3 linked regions of the Homo sapiens genome follow. The protein of the gene in region 3 interacts with the protein of the main gene of each other region in a pairwise test. Each region holds a gene or a part of one and is shown on either strand. Other genes may lie near its edges.

Evidence for each region.
Region 1: the proteins of RHOH (region 3) and XPNPEP1 interact in binary tests that used the Homo sapiens proteins (3 or more experiments, as listed by UniProt).
Region 2: the proteins of RHOH (region 3) and MTX2 interact in binary tests that used the Homo sapiens proteins (3 or more experiments, as listed by UniProt).

Annotation. Positions count from the first base shown.
Region 1 is NC_000010.11:109,920,495-109,928,424, reverse strand, and holds the start of XPNPEP1 (xaa-Pro aminopeptidase 1), read left to right. Parts: upstream 1-4,913; 5' UTR 4,914-4,991; coding exon 4,992-5,023; intron 5,024-5,178; exon of another isoform or gene 5,179-5,528; coding exon of another isoform or gene 5,529-5,545; intron 5,546-7,930. UniProt on the Homo sapiens protein: Metalloaminopeptidase that catalyzes the removal of a penultimate prolyl residue from the N-termini of peptides, such as Arg-Pro-Pro. Contributes to the degradation of bradykinin.
Region 2 is NC_000002.12:176,272,421-176,279,458, forward strand, and holds part of MTX2 (metaxin-2), read left to right. Parts: intron 1-7,038. UniProt on the Homo sapiens protein: Involved in transport of proteins into the mitochondrion.
Region 3 is NC_000004.12:40,241,993-40,247,467, reverse strand, and holds the end of RHOH (rho-related GTP-binding protein RhoH precursor), read right to left. Parts: intron 4,755-5,475; 5' UTR 4,634-4,754; exon of another isoform or gene 4,622-4,633; intron 4,291-4,621; 5' UTR 4,082-4,290; coding exon 3,506-4,081; 3' UTR 501-3,505; downstream 1-500.

The DNA.
Region 1 (7,930 bases), on a different chromosome or scaffold from region 3:
GCCATGTTATAATGATTTATGAGAGCTTCACTCATTACTGTTCTTGTAACTATCAATTTTATTAGAACAAACTGAAATGTTTGAAAAGGTTAAAACTCTCCTCTAAAGCTATAATTTTGTTTGATCTCCTACAGGGATTTCTATTTTTTTTAGTCCTCTCATCTGGGAGTTTATCAAGAGATGTTGCTCCTGTTTCAATAAGTGGTCAGGTCATCAACCAATTATCAAATTGAATACTAGAGGGCTACTATTACTTGTAGTGCTTGGATTTGGAGTACAAAACGAGTTCCTTGGCTCTGCCTTCCAAGGAGTAAGGGCCAGAGAAATTATTAGTACTTTGAGTTTCTTGTTAATAAAAAACAATCTCAAAAAAATGGCAAAATTAAAATCAGCCCAAGTTCTGCCACCTCAAGATATGCACTAAGATTTTGTGGATCACTTTCCTTTTATTCTAAAAAAGTACTTACTCTGGGTGTAATGGCTCGTGCCTATAATCCTAACACTTTGGGAGGCTGAGGCGGGAGGATTGCTTGAGCCCAGGAGTTTGAGACCAAGGCTGGGCAACATAGGGAGACCCTATTTCTACCAAAGGAAAAAAAATTAGCTGGGTGTGGTGGTGTGTGCCTATGGTCCCAGCTATTCAGAAGGTTAAGGTGGGAGGATTGCTTGAGCCTGGGAGGTCGAAGCTGCAGTGAGCTGTGATCACACCACTGCACTCCAGCCTGGGTGACAGAACAAGACCCTGTCTCTCCCTCCCAAAAAACTCTGTATCTATATATCCGTATCAGTATACATAGTTATGGATATGTTATAAAAATGGGATATTGGCCAGGCGCAGTGGCTCACGCCTGTAATCCCAGCATTTTGGGAGGCCGAGGTGGGCAGATCACAAGGTCAGGAGATCGAGACCATCCTGGCTAACACGGTGAAACCCCATCTCTACTACAAATACAAAAAATTAGCCAGGTGTGGTGGCGGGAGCCTGTAGTCCCAGCTACTCGGGAGGCTGAGGCAGGAGATTGGTGTGAACCCAGGAGGCGGAGCTTGCAGTGAGCCGAGACTGTGCCACTGCACTCCAGCCTGAGTGACAGAGCGAGACTCTGTCTCAAAAAACAAAAAACAAAAAACAAAAACAAAAAAAGGGATATTATATTGTTTTATAATTTACTTTTTCCCTTTGTTAGTTCGTGATTGTCTACATTAATAAAATGATATCTACTCATGCATAAAATTCAATGGTACAGATGGTTACTTAAGTAAAGTCCAGTGGGACATCTGGTTTAAGGTGTTGCAGGATGCAGCACTCAAATAACGTTTTGAGGTCTGCTTCTCCCCTTTCTATTTGCTCTGTCTTCTGCTGCCTTGGTGCCATTCACATGTTGCACATAGAGGCAGCAGTTCGAGTATATGCATCCAGGATCTTGGCTGGCAGAAGGAAGCAAGACTCTATTCCCATAGCAATATCTGATCCTATCATTGTAGCCTATGCCTGGGTTACATGATACACTCTTGGAATCCAAGTGTTGCACTTGGATAACATACATAGAGAATGGGGAAAGGAGGGAAGTAGGGAGAGGTGGGCCCCAGAGGGAATTGGTAGGATGGTTATCAGAAGGAGAATGAATGAATGTCGGGTGGCCCAAAACACAGGTCCACAATCTATACACGGACATTTGGAACTTGTTTTACATTGGTTTCCTAGGGCTTTCGTAACAAAGCAACACAAACTGCGTGATTTGAAAACAAATTTGTTGTCTCACTGTTCTGGAGGGCTGGAAGTCCAAGATCAAGATACCCACAGGGTTAGTTCACTCCATGGGCTGTGAGGGAGAATCTGTTCCATGGCTCTGTCCTAGCTTTCGGCAGTTTGTTGGCAGTCCTGGTGTTTGTTGGCTTGTAGATGCATCGTCCTGATCTCTGCTTTCGTGTTCACATGGTGTTCTTCCTGTGTGCACAGTGTGATTTCTTTTTCTGTTTTAAATAAAGACACTTCATATTGGATTAGGGATCCTTCCTACTCTAATATGACTGCATTTTAATTAATTACATCTGCACTGATCCTATTGCCAAATAAGATCACATTCGAAAGTACTAGGGGTTAGAGCTTCAACATATGAATTTTTGAGGTCACAATTCAATCCAACATATTTCTACGCATTTAATATTTCTGGCTACATCTAAGACCCACCCGGTCTGGGTGTGAATGCCAAAACCAGCTGTCTCCCTCTTTCTGCTGTGTGGGCTAGGAGACTGGATGAGGCCACCTCTAGGGTCCCTTCCAGATAACTTCGCGATTAAGTGTCAGGGCTAGGAATCCATCCTGCTGTCTGAATGTATGTTACAGTACCACCACTTACTAGCTCAGGGACTTTGGGCAAGGGGCTTAACCTCTGCAAATTTCAGTCTCCTCAACCAGTAAAATGAGGATAAGAGTCCTTCACCCATTGGTTTGTTGTGGGTTAGACACATAGCCTTCAATGAATGTCAGGCAGTGTGACTGTTCCACTTCTTTGAGGATGCAAGGACTGTAGAGCCAGGAGAAGAACCTATATAACTCCTGGTGTTCTCATTCTCTCATGGTAATTCAGTGCTATAACTTCTCCAGAGGTTCTCTTGTTAGAACTTCAAGAGCGAGGCCGGGCACAGTGGGTCATGCCTGTAATCCCAGCACTTTGGAAGGTCGAGGCCAAGGAGTTCAAGACCAGCCTGACCAACATGGTGAAACTCCGTCTCTACTAAATACAAAAAATTAGCCGGGTGTGGTGGCGCATGCCTGTAATCCCACCTACTTAGGAGGCTGAGGCAGGAGAATTGCTTGAAGCCGGGAGGCAGAGGTTGCAGTGAGCTGAGATTGTGCCATTGTACTCCAGCCTGGGCAAAAAGAGCAAAACTCCATCTCAAAAAACAAACAAACAAAAAAACTTCAAGAGGGGAAAGGGTTCCTTTTTTTATCTTGCAAACAGGAACTCAAATCCAGCTCAGGGAATGCAAGGTATTTCTCTCTCTCCCCTGAAGCTGGATGCCGTAAATTCTGAGCCAACTCCTTTTCTTTTAGGCAATGTGATTATTAAATACCTGTCCCCCTTAAGTTTCACTTATCTCTCTCTCTCTTATCTCGTTTTCTCTTATAACTTGATTTTTCCCACCAGCTTTCAGATGTGGGCTGGAACCAGTATTTTATTTACAATCTCTCTGTTTTTGGCTTCATAAATTTGGGGAAATGCAACAGATGTGTGCTGCTTTCCCAGGAAGCACATCTTTAGTTTTTTCATGCTTTAACTACACAGTCTAATTCGGCTTGCCTAAATGCTTATTCAATAACGACTTTGAGTTCTTGCAGGTAGCAGAACCTAGCTGATACAGGTATATTAGGCCTTACACCAAGGTCAAAGCAGGAGGAGGTGCCATTCACCTTTAAAAAAATGTGGTCACTTTCATTTAGTGCCAGGTGTTGTTCTAAGCACCAGGGAAATAACAATGAACAAGAGAGCCACCATCCCTGCTTTTGAGGAGTGCACATTCTGAAACATTCATTTCTGCAGAAAATATATAATGAGAACTTATGACATGTTAGATATTGTTCATCATTAAACAAAACAGAAACAATCTGCACTGATGGTTTTGTTGTGTGCGTGGGTGGTGGCAGGAGAGGGGGAAGAATACAGTACACATAAGTACATTAAAAGAATCCTGTTAAAAGGTGGTAAGTGCTATGGAAAAAATGAAGTAGGGTAAGGCGGATTAGGAATATTGGAATGATTTACAAATTTAAATAGGATGGTCAGGGTAGGTGATACTTGAACGAAGACTTGAAGGAAAATGAGGAAGGGAGCCTCAATATTTGGGGGATGAGCAAGTCCAAAAGCCCTGGGACATGAGTGTACCCTGCTTTTTCAAGGAGAGCCAGGAGGCCATTTCAGCTGAAGAAGAGTGAGGAAGGTGAGAACAGGAGGAAATGTGGCTGGGGGTAGATCAAATGGAGCTTTTATGCTGCGTGAAACGAGAAATTAATGGAAAGTGCTGAGCAAAGAAGTGACCTGGTGTCACGCTTCAAAGGACTGGTCTGGCGGCTTTGTTCAGGCTGGACTGTGCAGGTGCGGGATGGTGAGGGGATATTTGGGGGGCTGCTGTAACCACACGGGTGGGGTGGTACAACCCTCTGATGCACATCAGAGGGTAGGAGGTGGAGGTGGTGTGACACGGCCAGATTAGGGGTCTATTTTGGAGGCAGGGCCAACAAGATTTTGCTGGCAGATTAGATGTGGGGTGTGAAAGAGAAGAGGCAGGGAGGATTCCTAAATTTTGCCTCTTAAGAATAGAGTAGCCATTGATTGAGATGGCAAAGAAGACTGGTGGAGAACGTTTTTGCTTTGCTTCGGTGCATTGGGAGTTCCAGGAGTTCCGTTTGGACGTTAAGTTTGAAGGGGCTATTTACTATCCAAGCGGAGCGGAGAGCTGGATTTTGAAGCTCTCTGGGAACATACTTTTGGGGACATTTCTAAAGCTTGAGACCCTGTTCCAAAGCCTCGAAGACCCTGTCGAGGTTCTTCCGGAGCCGGCCACGTCCCTCTCTTCTCAGCCCTCCTAAATTAAGCCGGAAAATCCCTGGGACAGTAGCCCCTTTATTCGGCAAAGCCCTTTTTCCTCTTTGAGGAATGACGACAAAAACGAACAAAAATGAAGACACTCAGCAGCACTGCGTCCTTTCCCCGCTCGCTGCAGGGAGAGGCAATGCGGACTGGTGTGGAAGGGCAGGCCCCGCTCTGGGCCGCAGGCGCTGCGGCCGCGAACCCCAGGTCCGGGAGTGTGGGCGGGGCCTGCGTGTGGGCGGGGCCGCGGCGCCAGCGCCCGCCACGGGCGAGGGCGTGGCCGACCCGGCGCTAGCCCGCCCGCCCGCCCGCCGGCTCTCGCGCCTCCTTCGCGCCGGCCCTTCCGCGGGTGATCAGCTGGTCTGCGCTCCCCTGACGTGGGCTGGGGCACGTCACCGCCGAATGGCAGCCTCCAGAAAGCCACCGCGAGTAAGGTGAGGGCACTCCGCCGGCAGCCGGCGTCCGGGCAGCGTGCAGCCCTCGCTGCGCGGCCGCGCGTGTTGCACCTCGGCGGGCAGGGACGCGCGGGTGAGGAGCCCGGCCCGCCGCAGTCTGGCGAGGGCCGCGCTCGCCGGAGCCCCGGAACAGGAGCCGGGGGAAGGGGTCCATGAGGCCGGGCGAGATCCGGTTCGTTTCCGGAGGGTCGGTGGGCACGGGGCGGCCCGAGTCTGGTTCCTGGACGCGTATGCCCGCGGAACTGCTGCACTCGGCCTGAGGGGGCGGCGGCCGTCACAGTTCCTGGCCCGCGGGAAGGCCCCGTTCTTGGAGGAAGTTGGCCCCTCTTCGTGTCCGGGGAGGTGGGCGAGCCTTTGCCCTCGCTTCTGTTACCCAGGAATCTAAACCTCAAGTTACAATCTCGACAATACTGACTCCTGCAATTCACTCTACTGATCTGTCACCGCCACAAGGATAGACGGTCGCGGGCCCCTCCCTACCCAAATGGTTTCAGAGGCTGTGTAAGGGAATATTTTGGTATAATCTCCAGGAAAATCCCCCCAGTAGCCTGCCCTGGGCTCTCCTTGGGCATAGGAGGGTGAGACAGATAATTTCCCGGCCTCAAGTTAAACATGTTTTAGTTTATTCCCCTGCCATAACCAGGATGTACTTATCAGAGCCTCTGACAAAGTGGGAGACGGAGAGAGGTGTTCAGAGTTCATGGAGGCCACAGGCCAGACTCCCTGGCCATCCCCAAGGGGTCACCCACCTGCTAACCACTTGAGACATGAATGCACTCACTTTGCAGCATGGCCAGGCTTTCTTGCTGAACACAGACCATGGCTCCTGCTTGTGTTTGTGAGTAGGGGGGTCCCAAACCTACCTTGACCTGGATTTGCCGTTGCCACAGCTTGTTAAGGGTGAGCAGAAAACCAGACCCACCCTGTGGAAGTATGTGGGAGGGGTGGAGAACTTCCATCTGGAAGGAGCTTCCTGTAAGTGAAGTGCTGGAAATGGAGTCAGGCAAGTGGATAATGATGAGTTAGGCTGTAGGCCTCAGGTGGTCTTTAGGGGGCCAAGGTGATCTGTGCTAGATTTATAGACTCACAGCCTTTTAGGAGCAGAAGAGTCTTTTCTACACCAGCTGGTAGAGTCTTTTTTACCTCAAAGGAAAGTCCAGTGAAAGGCTGAGAGAGGGGAAGCCATTTTCCACAGGCGCCTCCCCTACTGGTAGAATTTGAGTGCCATTCCTTGTAAAAGTGAGCACTTCTTTCAGTTTCGGTAATGGAAACTGAACTCAAATTGATTTACCTAAAATGGGGTTGAGCTGGCTTCTAGTGTGGCTGAATCCGGGAGCACCACCAACATTGGCTTCAGACTTCTCTTTATCATCTCTTGGCTCTGATTTATTCAGTATCCGCTTCATTCTCAGGGAGACTTTCTCCTTATGGCAGGTTATGACAGTTCTAGGCTGACAGCCCCAGCAGAGAAGTTGAGCCCTCCTTCCTAATGGAGCAGAAGTCCCTGATCTGATGCTCACTGGGCTGCCTTAATTCTCATGTTCATCTGTGAACCAATCATTATGGCCAGAGGGAGGGATTGACCTGCTTTGGGTCCCAGAGCCTGTTAGGTGTTTGGATAAGACTGCTTTGAACCCCTTGGGCTGAAATGGAGAGGGTACATTCTCAAAAGGAAAACCAAGGTTCCCATCAAAAGGAGGGATGGATTCTGGGTAGACAAAGACAACATTGCTTACTTCCCAACCTTAGAACTTGTTCCAGTTTACCCTTGTCTCATCCACTAGGTGTGATTGAGCATCTTGTTCCTTGTTTTGCCCCATGCTGAACGCTACACATGTGTGATTCCCATGAACTGGGGGTTGCAGGGGGGTGAGGTATTCAGAACCCTGCCAGAATTTCTTGGAAAAAGAGGGAGAAGGCCTTTTCTAGTGCTACCATAACCATCTTATACAAAGATTGAAAGTGCTCTGCATGCTTCTTGCCCCTTACCCACTTTGTGGCTCATCATGAAGTTGAGAAGGTGTAGGTCGAAGAAGTTCTGGGAAGGGTAGGAGCACTGAGCTGGATGTTGGGAGGCTGGAACGCTGGTTCTAGCTCTGTCAGCAGTTAGCTGTGAGGCCTTGAGCCAGTCATTTGATCTTTGTTTCTTGGTTTCCTGGTCTAGAGGAGGGAATTGAGTTGGATAGTCCCTGAGGTATATTCTTCTAGTTCTTAATATTTAATGATAATTGTGCTTTGACAGAGAACTTAAGAATTTTATCTGTCCAAACAAGTGAAAGGTGGATAGATCTTGGACTCTGCGGAGACCAAGATACGACAAGAACAGAGCAGCTGTAGTATTGAGCTGCTTCGTAGCTCCTGTGATCCTGACAGAAAGGTGGAGGTGTTGATGCTCACACAGAGAGTTTGAGCTCACCTGTCAGACCTAGTTTCTGGTCTTGGCTTTGCGGCTACTGAGTTATATGGCCTATGGTAAGTTATCTTTGTTTTTTTATTCTGTAAAATGAATGAATAGGATTACCTTAAGGTAACCTTGGCTAGGCACGGTGGCTCACACCTATAGTCCCAGCACTTTGGGAGGCTGAGGTGGGAGGATCACTTGAGGCCAGGAGTTTGAGACCAGACTGGGCAATGTGGTGAGATCCTGTCTCTTCAGAAAATTATTAAAAAAAAAAAATCAGGTTGGTGTGATGGCACATACCTGTAGTCCTAGGTCCTTGGGAGATTGAGGCAGGAGAATTGCTTGAGCTTAGGAGTTTGAGGCTGCCATAAGCTAAGATTGTGCCACTGCACTCCAGCCTGAGTGACACAGCAAGACCCTGTCTCTAAAAAAATGATAACCTTCCACCTCTGTAGTCATGTGTCTGAACCAGTCATTGGGATCAG
Region 2 (7,038 bases), on a different chromosome or scaffold from region 3:
CTTACAAAAATTTAAGTTGGTGCGGTGATGGATATATTAATTACCTTGATTTATTCTTTCTATTCTTTGATTTATTTAGTTCAAAATATCACGTTGTACCTCCTAAATGTACAGTTATTATTTGTCAAAAACATTTATACAAAAATTATGGTATGGTCACATTTTTACAGATCCAAAAATGAAGAAGTATATCTGTTAAATACGTTGTCTTGAAAGCTATGGTTATATTAAGTAAAAAGTTATAAAATAATATCTATTTTGTATGAACTCATGAAATCTATATAAACATACATATGTTTATATATGTTAAGAATATTCAACTAATTGTAACTAGCGATTGGGATAATAAAGATAGATTGTTGGTAGAGGGTGGAGGAACTATATTTCTGAATTGTTTGAATTACTATAGTGAGCATAGTTTACTTTTGTAATTTAAATGATTGTAATTGTTAAAATTTATAAGATTATGTTTTGCCAAGAAGTGAAAACAGGAGGCTGCCTTAATCTGTTTTGTGTTGCTATAACAGAATACCACAGACTAGGTAAGTTACAAAGAAAAAAAATTCAAGTCTCACATTTTGGGAGGCAACGAACTCCAGCTTCAAGGTGCCGGTATCTGATGCGAGCCTTTGTGCTGCATTATCCTGTGGCAGAAGGTGGAAAGGCCAGGGAGGGCAAGAGCCAGGGACTGAGAGGGCTGAACTTGCTTTTACAACAACCTACTCTTGGGATAAAGAGATGAATCCATTCATGAGGGTGGAGCCCTCATGATCTAGTCATCTCTTAACAATCCCACCTGTTAATACTGTCAGAATGGTAATTCCATTTCAGCATGAGTTGTGAAGGGGATATTCAGACTATAGCAGTGGTTAAAGTAATAATTTATCGGAAACCCTGTGTTTGACTTGTAAATGACTTATAAATGTGACTCAAATCCAGCAACTATTCACAGTGTTCTGTTTCTGGTAGTACAGGTTGGAGTTATGTATCTATATAGATCTGTTATAACTTAAGTAATTATGAATCTGTTTTTGTAGTTGAGAGCTCTAATTTTTAGTGTATCCAACACTTTGCTTATTACCTTTCCTTCCTGTGGACATGAGCTAACACTGATTATTTCTTTTGGAAACATTTAAAGATATCTGGCATCTCTCTGTGGTATTCTTGAAGTGACTTCTTTGAGATCCTTATTCATAAGGATATCTTTTTAGAAGTCTTCTCTGAACTCCCCAGTTTAAGTGAACTGCTTCTATCTCCTTACTACCAGTATTTCCCTTGCCAACTTTTCTCAGTTATCGTTCCTAAATAGGACTTATTCTGTCCATTTCTACTGCTGTTACCTTAGTTCAAAGCTTTGTCATTTTTTGCTTAGATAACCATAGTAGTCTCTGAATTGATTTCTCTGCTTCCAGTCTGGCTTCCTTCCAGTAGAGTCCATACACTGCAAGCCTCAGTGGGTTTTTTGTTTGTTTTGTTTTATTTTAATTTTCCTTAAAAAAAAAAAAACCTCCTCTTGTTTTAACATTTTGTTGGTTTCTCATTGTCAGTAGGACAGCCTCATGTCTTGTCACTTCTTTCCTTGCCCCTTGCCTGAGATGTGCACTTTGCTTGAATAACTCCTGTTCATCCTTTAAGACTCTGGGCACCGTTTTAACCATTTAATGTAAGTCTACCTGACATTTTTTTCCTGTCAAATGAGAAAGGTTTGTTGTCTAGTTTTTTTTTCCTGATAATGATAATGATATGTTGCCATTATGGAAAATGAAAACAATCCAGAGATAAAGTAAAAATTACCTGAAATCATACCACACAGATTAAGACTTTAAAATTCCATCCATCATTAAAACTTTGATGAGCAAAGCTATTTCATTCTCTTTCCCTGAATTAAAAAAATCGACATATAATATGCATAATTTTTTGTAACCTGTTTTGTCATATATTGGGATCTCTTTTCATGTCTGTGAATGGAATTACACATCATCATTTTAAAATGGTTATGTAGTATTTCATTGTAATGAAGAAGCCAAAATTTACTTAAGTAGTATTACTCGGATGGGTATTTAGAGAGTTGTTATCAGTCAGTTCAACCAGAGAAGCAGAAGTACCAGGATATCTATTTCTCTCTCGAGCCACACACACACATGCATGTATGTGCATACACAAACACATGGCAAAGAATTGGCTCTTAATGTGGAGGCTGGCAAAGTAAGTGCAAAGCATGCAAGGCGGGCAGTCAGGAGCCGGGGGAGATCCAGGACTAAGCACTGGCAAGACCAGGTACTACCTGGAGTGTCTGATCCCAGGGAGGACTTAGACCCTTTTTTAAAGGGCTTTCAACTGATAAAATCAGGCCACTTAGGATACTCTCCCTTTTGATTAATGTAAAGCTAACTAAGTAGGGACTTTAATTATATCAGCAGAATCTCTTTATGGCAGCACCTAGATTAGGGTTAGAAAAGCTAGGAGGAAGTGTGTGTCTGCTACAAAATGACGTTGCCTCTCTTCTCTTCCCAACACCTGGCGGAGAATATCCCTTGTAGCCCACTTTAGAGACATAGTAGAAAGGGAATTTTGGCAAGTGTATTCAGTGTAGGTAAGCTGATGTGTCCCAAAGCCATCACACGTGTGTGTGATTTTTGTCTGTTGTAAGCAGTGCTTACGTAAACATATTTATGCATCTGTTCAGTAGTTTTTTGGAATATATTTTTTAAAGTGGAAGATAATTTTGAACTGTTCTTTTAGCTTAATATGGAAAGAAATGGTAAGTTATGCTTTTGAATGAATAGTTGTTTCTCTAGATGATGATGTGCTGGATTTAGAATTTTTTTTTTTTTTGAGGTGGCATTTTACTCTTGTCACCCAGGCTGGAGGGCAGTGGCACAACCTTGGCTCACTGCAACCTCCACCTCCCAGGTTCAAGTTATTCTCCTGCCTCAGCCTCTTGAGTAGCTGGGATTACAGGTGTCTGCCCCCATGCCCAGCTAATTTTTATATTTTTAGTAGAGATGGGATTTCACCATGTTGGCCAGGCTTGTCTTGAACTGCTGGCCTCAAGTGTTCTGCCTGCCTTAGCCTCCCAAAGTGCTGAGATTACAGGTGTGAGCCACTGTGCCCGGCCTAGAATTTTAAAAGGATAAAAATAGACCTGGATATTATTAAAAATAGTTTAAAAATATTTTATAACCTGTATATTTGTTTTCACTTTTTTTAATGGAGAGATTTTTCAATACATTACTCACATTTTGTTTTTTTAATTTTGTTCTTCCAGTCAGTTGGTTATGAATATATCATAGGGGAGGGTTGTGTAATCCCATTTGGGCTACATGACGGCATTTGGAGCAGCCAAAAGGGTAGAGTACTTGGGTGGACAGGCCTAACTCACTTGCCCATCCCTGTGCCAGGAGTGGCTCCAGGTATTAGGGCTCCACAGTGCCACCAGATACACAAAAGAAGGGAGAGAGGTGTTGAGCACTAAACAGCAGAAATTGGCTGCAGTGTTGATTGCTTCCTTCACGTTGCTTTTACACTTTCTATGGATTTTGAAGTGAAAGGTCTAACCTGGGTTCTTATTCAGCTACTTCCTAGCTGTGTGAACTTGGGCAAATTAACTGCCTTTTTAAGCCTGAGATTTCTCATTTGTAAAATGGTGAAAATAATAATGTGTTACTTTAAAGATACAATTTTGGTAAAGCTTTAAAAATTTATTTGTAAATAACAGATAATTTAATTCAATAATATGAAGTATCTACATACAGTTATTGCAGTTATTAAAATTACTTAGTAATGTATCCTAGAATAATTTGTTATTCCAGGATGTTTATTTCAAGATATATACATTTGATATGCTCCAGCCATGTTTATTTTCATTATAAAATTGAATCTTGGTATAGGTCATATTGGCGGTCTGTTAATTAGAATTGCCATAGCTGGTTATTGATAATAAGAGTAAGCTTTTGAGCTACTGTGTTAAATGATTTATATACGTAATTGCTAATAATAACAATTTGGTCTTGTTAGGTATTTTGTGGATAAGAATACTGAAACTCAGTATAAAGGTTAGGAACAAGGTCATTGGAGTAAGAGCTGGAGTAAGCTCAACCCTGCTTCTTGTTGGCAGGCCTTTCTAGTCCTCAGTTTCCTCATTTGTAAAAGGGGATAATATATTTATAATGTATGTCAAGTATCTAGTATAGGGTGGTAGATAATAAATGTTCAGTACATGTTAGTTTCTATTGTTACTTTTATTGCCCAAGAGCCTTTCACCTTATAGTAAGGGGTCCTTTGAGGATATTAACTCTTAACATGTAGTATCCCATTACCATTTTGGACAGCAGAAAATGCCCAAAGTATTCTTACTTTTCTTTACTCATATACCATCTTTTCTGATTTATTACTCCACCGGTGCCTTGCCATATTTTAAGCACATCAGTTAGTTTCATCATACTATAATTTATTAATCTTTTGAAATAAGAACAATATCTGTTCTGTTCTTTATTTAGAAGCTCAGTAAACTATATAAAGGATGAAAAAAGAATGGTCGGAATATTCCATTTATCTCGTTGTGGGCATTTGGGTGCTTAATTATTTAAATTTATTAATAACTTCATTTAAGCAGTAGCATTAATTTATAGTATGAGCTAGGAAAGTAGTTTTGCAGCGTTCCATGGAACCCATATGTACGCATCTTGAAAGTGTGATTAAAACAGGTATGTTTTTAAAAATTTGTTTTTATATTGGTAATAAAGTGTTTTCATTCCATCCCTCCTCACATGAGTACTGGGGAATCTGGACTTGAAAAGCATTCAGAAGAGTTCCAGAGGCTAAAGGAAGTAGAAAATAAAGGTTTAAAGGCTTTTGTAATATAGAAGTGATGCTATTGCTCACAATGAAGAAAATGATGGTAAAGGCTTGTATATCCATGTATCAGAATATTTAATGATGACAGTTGCAACAGATAATTGAAGAAATACAATGCATTAAATTCATTTTTCTCTTTTTTGAGATGGAGTTGCGCTCTTGTTGCCCAGGCTGGAGTGCAGTGGTACAATCTTGGCTCACTGCAACCTCCGCCTCCTGGGTTCAAGTGATTCTCCTGCCTCAGACTCCTGAGTAGCTGGGATTACAGGCATGTGCCACCACACCTGGCTAATTTTGTATTTTTAGTAGAGACCGGGTTTCTCCACATTGTTCAGGCTGGTCTCGAACTCCCGACCTCAGGTGATCTGCCCACCCCGGCCTCCCAAAGTGCTGGGATTACAGGCGTGAGCCACCGTGCCCAGCCTTTAATCTTTTGCTCTTGAAAATAAAGATATTTTGTTATTTTTACTCAGTATTCTGAGGATTTTCCAGTATTGAGGAAGGCACTGAGGAATTATTAAAAAGTTATTGGACCGACCGTCACGTTTAAGAGAATTAAAAAAAAAACATATTAGTCATATGAATAATCTTACACAGTTGTGCTTATGACCTTGAAGATACGAAGCTGAGATTGAATGGTGCAGATGGTAAAGCAAAATAGTGACAAAATAGGTTATACTTCAGACTAGAGGCAAGATATAGTTTATTGACAGCAGTGGATCCTGTATTTTATTATACTGTATTGCTGAATAGGTTGAAACTGGTTTTTTTTTTTTTTTTTTTTTTTTTTTGAGATGGAGTCTTGCTCTGTTGCCCAGGCTGGAGTGCAGTGGGGTGATCTCAGCTCACTGCAACCTCTGCCTCCCAGGTTCAAGTGATTCTCCTGCCTCAGCCTCCCAAGTAGCTGGGATTATAGGTGCCCACCACCACACCTGGCTAATTTTTGTATTTTCAGTAAAGACGGGGTTTTACCATGTTGGCCAGGCTGGTCTTGAACTGCTGACCTTATGTGATCTGCCCGCCTCAGCCTCCCAAAGTGCTGGGATTATAGGTGTGAGCCACTGCACCTGGCCAAAACTAAATTCTTAACAGCAATATTATGTAAATTTTTGAAAACTTTGATAATAAGATCCCTTCAGAGGCTTGTTTTCTGCTAATGAAATAGTTCATAGGCTGTAATATGAGTTTTAATTTACTTAATGTGGTTTATTAACATTTTATACTCTGAAATTACATGATTTTTAGTTTTTAACTTAAAAGATTTTGGTGATGGGTGCCCCATAAAATTTGTCAGTCTTATTTCTTTGAAGACTTTTGAGTTATTAACGTTAGCCCAAGCTTGCCATATTTTGGTGAAAATTGAAAGAAAACGCCACCAAACTTTTTAATATTTTTCAAACATTTTTGAAGTTTCTTGATAAGCAGTTATCAGATGGACTGAAGATATCAAATAGAGATGAGATATTGAAAATTCAGGCTTCTCATTTTTTTTTCAAAGACAGAAGTTATAATATTCAGTAAATCCAGCTATAGACATTCATATATAGAAGTATTTGCCTTGCCAGTAAAAGGGATGCATGCTTTAATTTTTTATTGCTTTGTAAATGATCCTCTCCTCTATTCTTGAACACTTTTCTTATTTTTGTACGCTCTATAAATGAATTATGGTTTTGAACTTTTTTACATCAGTAATAAAAATGAAATTTGATTGGTTGGTAATAAAGAAGGTTCTTTTCATAAAAGCAATCATTTTGTCATGACAATTCTCGTTAACTGTAACTGTGTTGGCAAAATAGAAACCATAAAATGCATTTCACTGTTTTTATACACTTAGCTATGTTTTTTTGCTGATCATATATTTTATCTCTAAGAACTTGTATAAGCCAAAGAATTTCTTCATAACTTGATCTGTCTTTAGATGGAAAAAAATAGACTTTTGATGTGTATATTTATTACAGTGGATACAGTATCTTTGAGTATTACAATGGTATTTACCCCCACATCATATTTTATTACCTGGTCAATTTAGAGCACTAATCAGAACTTTATATGAATAAATTGTGTCATTTGTATAACATGAAGAGGCCATTATTATTCCAGTGTTTATTTCTGTAAAGTAATATTGGCAGCTGACTCAATGAACTAGCCTTCTTTTGACCTCCATTTCTTTTGATTGTTAGC
Region 3 (5,475 bases):
CACAGCACATCTGAAGCACTGAACAAACTTAATCAGGATGCTTCTAGCTTTCTTGTCACTCACTGCACTGGATTCTGCTGCCCAGTTAACTAGTCAGTGGAAAGTAAGACAGAATAGAATTGCTATGGATGGAATGTTTGTGTCCCCACAAATCTCAAAATGTTGAGGCCTAATCCCCAGTGTGATGGTATTTGGAGGTGAGGACTTTGCGAGGTATTAGATCATGAGGGTTGAGCCCTCATGAATGGGATTATTATCCTTAGAAGAAGAAACACCAGAAAGATGATCTCTTGCTCTACCATGTGAGAACACAGCAAGAAGACAGCCATTGCAAACCAGGCAGAGGGGTCTCACCAGAACCCAACCATGCTGTCCCTTGCCTTGGACTTCCCAGCCTCCAGAACTGTGAGAGATAAATTTCTGTTATTGAAGTCCCCTAGTCTATGGTTTTCCACTATAGCAGCCCAGGCTGACAGAGACAAGAATGAACTACCCGACCATGAAAATTAACTCTTTAATGTCATCAAGAACATATTTAATGCTGCTACTTGGAATAGTTAAGAATCGATATGCAATAGTCTACAAAAAGGTACCACAAATTTTGAAGTATAAGAAACCTGTGTCTGCATCTAGGCAGGCAAAAGTAAGTATGTGCTTATGTAGAACACACAACACACGGATTCTACCCATATGACCTATTTTTCTTCTTACCCCTACAAGGCTGGTGAGGGTCTGCTTGCTTTCTATAACCACTGTGTGGCACAGAAGCCCAATTACTGTCTTTCTCTCCATTTCAGTTTAACACAACTTTACCTCCATTGCCTTCCCTGTGCTGAGCCCTGGGGACACTGAGGAGACCAGGAGGCAGTGCTACCTTCAAGAACAGCAGTCTAGCAGGAAGACAGACACTTATCGGCTCCATTTCTGCCAGATTCTGCCACTGGAAAGGGTTTACACATAGATTCCTGGTCTCAGGTATGAGAGTTCCCAGACGGAGCTGTTAAGCTTGGCTCCCGCCAACAGGTGGAGGTCTCACCTGTGTGTCTTTGCCCAGGTGACAGCAAAGCCATTTGAGTGTGCCCTCTCTGGCCTTCCCTTCCTGCTCTGCTGCCACCGTGGAACCACCTCCTCTTCCTTCACTTAGGATCATGTATGGTGGCCCTTCCCACTTTCAGATACCCACCCCCATCTCTCTTCAACAAGAGAGAAAGAAAAGCCTGGGGGACAGCCCACTGCAGTGAATAGAAATTCCTTCCCACTGACATGTTAAATACCTCTCATGGCAAAGGCTGGCCCTGAACACCCGCATCCGTGATTTAAGACTCTGTGGGTTGAGGGAGAAGAAGAGAATCCCAGGGATATCAGAGGATATGAGATCCCTTCCCCTCCCCTGCCCGGTCATCTTTCAAGCCCCCCAACCCTGAGCTGAGAACTAGAGACACGGGCTCTCCAATCAAGGGAGGCGGGTGACTTAGAGGTGAGTACAAGCCACCGCCTGGAGAGCAGAGAAGTCTGAGTGAAGGCAGCTGTGTCAGCCCCAGGGAACCGAGGCAATCCTCCCACCAGAGATCAAGACCCCGGTCCCAGGCCTTTTACTGGCTGTGGATAGGAGGAGAGAGAGAAGGAGAAAGCAATGTGTGAATGAGCACACATTTGGTTTTTGATACTGATTATAGCTGTAAGGAATTGACCACACAAGGGAACAGAGAAACTGGTTTGGCTATGTCAACATAATTCTAATCAAAGTCATTTATGCCAGCCACCTTACCTTTTGTGTGTAATAGTCACGTTACCCCATAACAATGATGTACCTTCATAAAGGTGGTTCAGAGTGTTTCTAAGTTTTGATTAGGGCAGTAATTGATTGATCTATCTAGGTGCCAGCCTTTGCAATTTCTTTCTTTTTTTTCTTTTCTTTTTTTTTTTTTTGAGATGGAGTCTCCCTCTGTTGCCCAGGCTGGAGTGCAGTGGCGCGATCTTGGCTTACTGCAACCTCCGCCTCCCAGGTTCGAGCAATTCTTTTGCCTCAGCCTCTTGAGTAGCTAGAACTACAGGCATGTGCCACCACACCCAGCTAATTTTTAGCTAATATTTAGAAGAGACGGGGTTTCACCATGTTGGCCAGGCTGGTCTTGAACTCCTGGCCTCGTGATCCACCCGTCTCAGCCTCCCAAAGTGAGCCACCACGCCCTGCCCAACCCAGCCTTTGCAATTTCTACCTTAAGTTATGTAGTCCTCTGTTCTCCACTTTAACAGATGAGCAACACCATTGCTTTTAAACTATTCGATAGAATGAGGTTTGAGTTGTGTGTGTGAGAGCAGGTTGTGTGCGAGTATGTGTGTGTCTATTTATTCAGTATTTCCCCTGATAACTTTCTGTTCTCTGAGCAGTTGCTATATAGCTTTCTTATTCCTGTGCTTGGAATTTGATTTTTCTTTTTTGAAGGCTGTAAATTCTACCTTTTTTCCCTTACATACACATATATATGTAGATATCCCCCCAATAAGCCTAACTAGACCTTACGATTCATAAATTATGTTGCCACAACAGCTCAGTTTAGACAAATTTATAACAAATTTGTGAAATTAACAGAACTTTGAGACCCCTGTCTTTCACAGGACCTGCAGTCGCCTGGGAACCACCCTACCAGAAGTGAAAGTGACACTCTCTTGCTTCTGTTCCAAGTTCTGTTGCCATTGCTTGGAGCAGTCTGATTCTCTACCTGAAAGATGGTGTTTCAATCAATCTTGGTGAATGAGAGGAGAATATTTAGTGCATAACTGGAGTTGAGTGAAAGACAATATAGTAAATAAATGAATGATGTTTTATCATTTCAGAAAAATATAGTGATAACTTTAAAATCATTAGGCAGTATTAGGATATCTTATGGAACTGTATTTTATATCCAACTGTGAATAACAGGTAAGTAGAAAACAAATTGCAAAGATTCATTTATGGTCATTTTTAAATTTGATTACCCATTTAAATCCAGCAGCCAAGTGGTTTCAACAGACTTTCTACTTGAGGTGAAAATAATAACACTACAAACATATGGCAGAGCTTCGTACAAGCATTTCACTCACAGAGGAGTTTATGTTTTCGAGGATGTAGGAAAAGATTTTCCAAGTGTGAAAACTAAATATATACAAAAGCAATACATTTTGTTATTAGTTAAATAAAATGTGTCTTTAAATATGGAATTCTTTGAAAAACTCACTTCATCGTCCAAAATTATGGAGACTATTTCACTTTTTTAATCAAAGATGGAATATTCATCACAGTTCCCCAAGGGATTTTCTAACTGGCCTGGGCAAGGAGTTCACTTGTAGAGTGTAGTTAGTGAAAACATCCAGTGGCCAAGCCTCATCAATAACTGTATCCAAAAGGAGACGCTGCTTGGGGTGTACCCAGAGAAAACACCAAGCTTTCCTGGCTTCCCGGCCCTCCCTCTCCCCATTAGTCTTTGGGGTGCATACATAAGTGTTGTGTGAAGTCTCTTGGGGTTTAGAAGATCTTGCACTCATTGATGGAGAAGAGCCTCCTTCTGTTTCGTCTCCTGGCCTGGTTGACGGCAGTTCGGACGGCGCACTCAAACACCTGCTGTACTCCCCGATTGCTAAGGGCTGAGCACTCCAGGTAGCCCTTGGCTCTGACATCCTGGGCCAGTTTCTTCCCTTCCATGGCATTGACGCAGGAGGCCCTGTGGGGCCCCATCTCCCGCTGGTCAGTCTGGGTGGCCACCACCAGCACAGGGGTACAGGGCAAGTTGCTCCTAATTTCACCAATCCACTTGTTCTTCAAGTTCAGGAATGAGTTATGGTTGGCCACAGAGTAGCACATCAGCACCACGTCTGCCTGCTGGTAGGACAGGGGCCGGATGCTTCTGAAGGCGTCATTGCCGGCTGTGTCCCAGAGGCCCAGGCTGATCTGGATGCCATCCATGAAGACGTCCACCCCTGTGTTCTCGTACACTGTGGGCTTGTAGGCCTCCGGGAAGGTCTCGGAGGTGAAGCGCACCAACAGAGAGGTTTTCCCCACAGCAGAGTCGCCCACCAACACGCACTTGATGGAACTCAGCATCTTCCCAGCCTGCTGTCCTACTCTGAAGTCCAGAATCCCAGGGAAAAGAGCCCTCAGTGGGCAGCTGCAGCACACGCCATTCAGCAAGGGGAATGCAAGCCAGGTAGGTCTGTGTCCTCAGGACCTCTGACGGCGATTTGCAGAATGTTACTTCTCCCTGCCCATCCAAGCACCGTCTGCTTTGAAAACCTCCAAAGCCTAGTCTTCAACTGGAACAGAAAGAGAAGGGGGAAAATGAAGTCTTTCTTTCTTTCTTGCCTTTTTTGAAGATAAGGGGCTTCCTCATTGGCAAACTGATTAAATGTGGGGTAATCTCAGTGTAGCCATCCAACCCCGCTTGTGCAATCCACTCTTCCCCTCACAGGGAGAGCTTAGATCTGTCTTCCCCCAACACACACACACACACACACACACACACACACACACACACACACACACACAAATGCCTCCCGGTCAAGAAGCAGAAGCTGACTTTATCTGTAAAATCACTCAAGCACTAAAAAACACAAGCAACTGCTCTGACTGCAACATGAAATAGACCTCAGTAGCAACCTGGTGTGTGAAGGAGAAGTTTCCAAACAGCTCTCTGTCGGCTTCTACTCCAAGAAGTGGCAAAGGCCCCGAGAGCGTTCTCCACGGCTTCAGTTTCTGATGGATCTAGCCATGTTGGAAACTGCAAGAAACAAGAACGTTATGAGCGACAGATACTATATGCATTTCTTTTTGTTTATTGACTAATCACACAGTCCTTGGTTTATGGGAATATGTGTTGTAATAGGGGAAAAGAAATTACTAGAACTCTAAAAATTTGCTGTGGTTTTTCCCTTGAGGTTTTTCCAAAAACTGGTAAGAGATGCAACAGACTGGCCTTAGAGTTATCTGCATCTGAAATCAGGCACTGTCACCTACACATGGCTTTGAGCACGCTGCTTGAACTCCACACCTCAGCTTACACATCTGCAAGATTGTGATAAATTTAGGAACCACTTCTCAGAGATGCTGTGAGGATTAAGTTATTTCTTTCTTTTAACATTTTTGGTGGCCATCTGTGTATCCCGAACTCCGCTAGGCCCCTGGTTAAACAAAATAACTTGCTTGAAAGCAACCATATTCAGTGCCTGTCACTTAAACAGAGGACTGCATAAATGGGACAATCTGAATTTCATTAAAGGCCAAATAAATTCTCATTCAGTGCAGTGGGAAAGCCCCAGGCAATGAGCTCCGCCTTGGAGACAGTGTCGTGTCTGCTGTGGCACAATATCACAAGGCCAGCCCAGCTCCAGACGAAGGAAAAGTCTTTCAGACCAAAATTCAGAGTAAAGGTTATTCCTGCAACCTGGGCTTGTAACCTCCCCTCCCTGGCGATCTTCCTGACATGTGTCATGCAGGGCAAT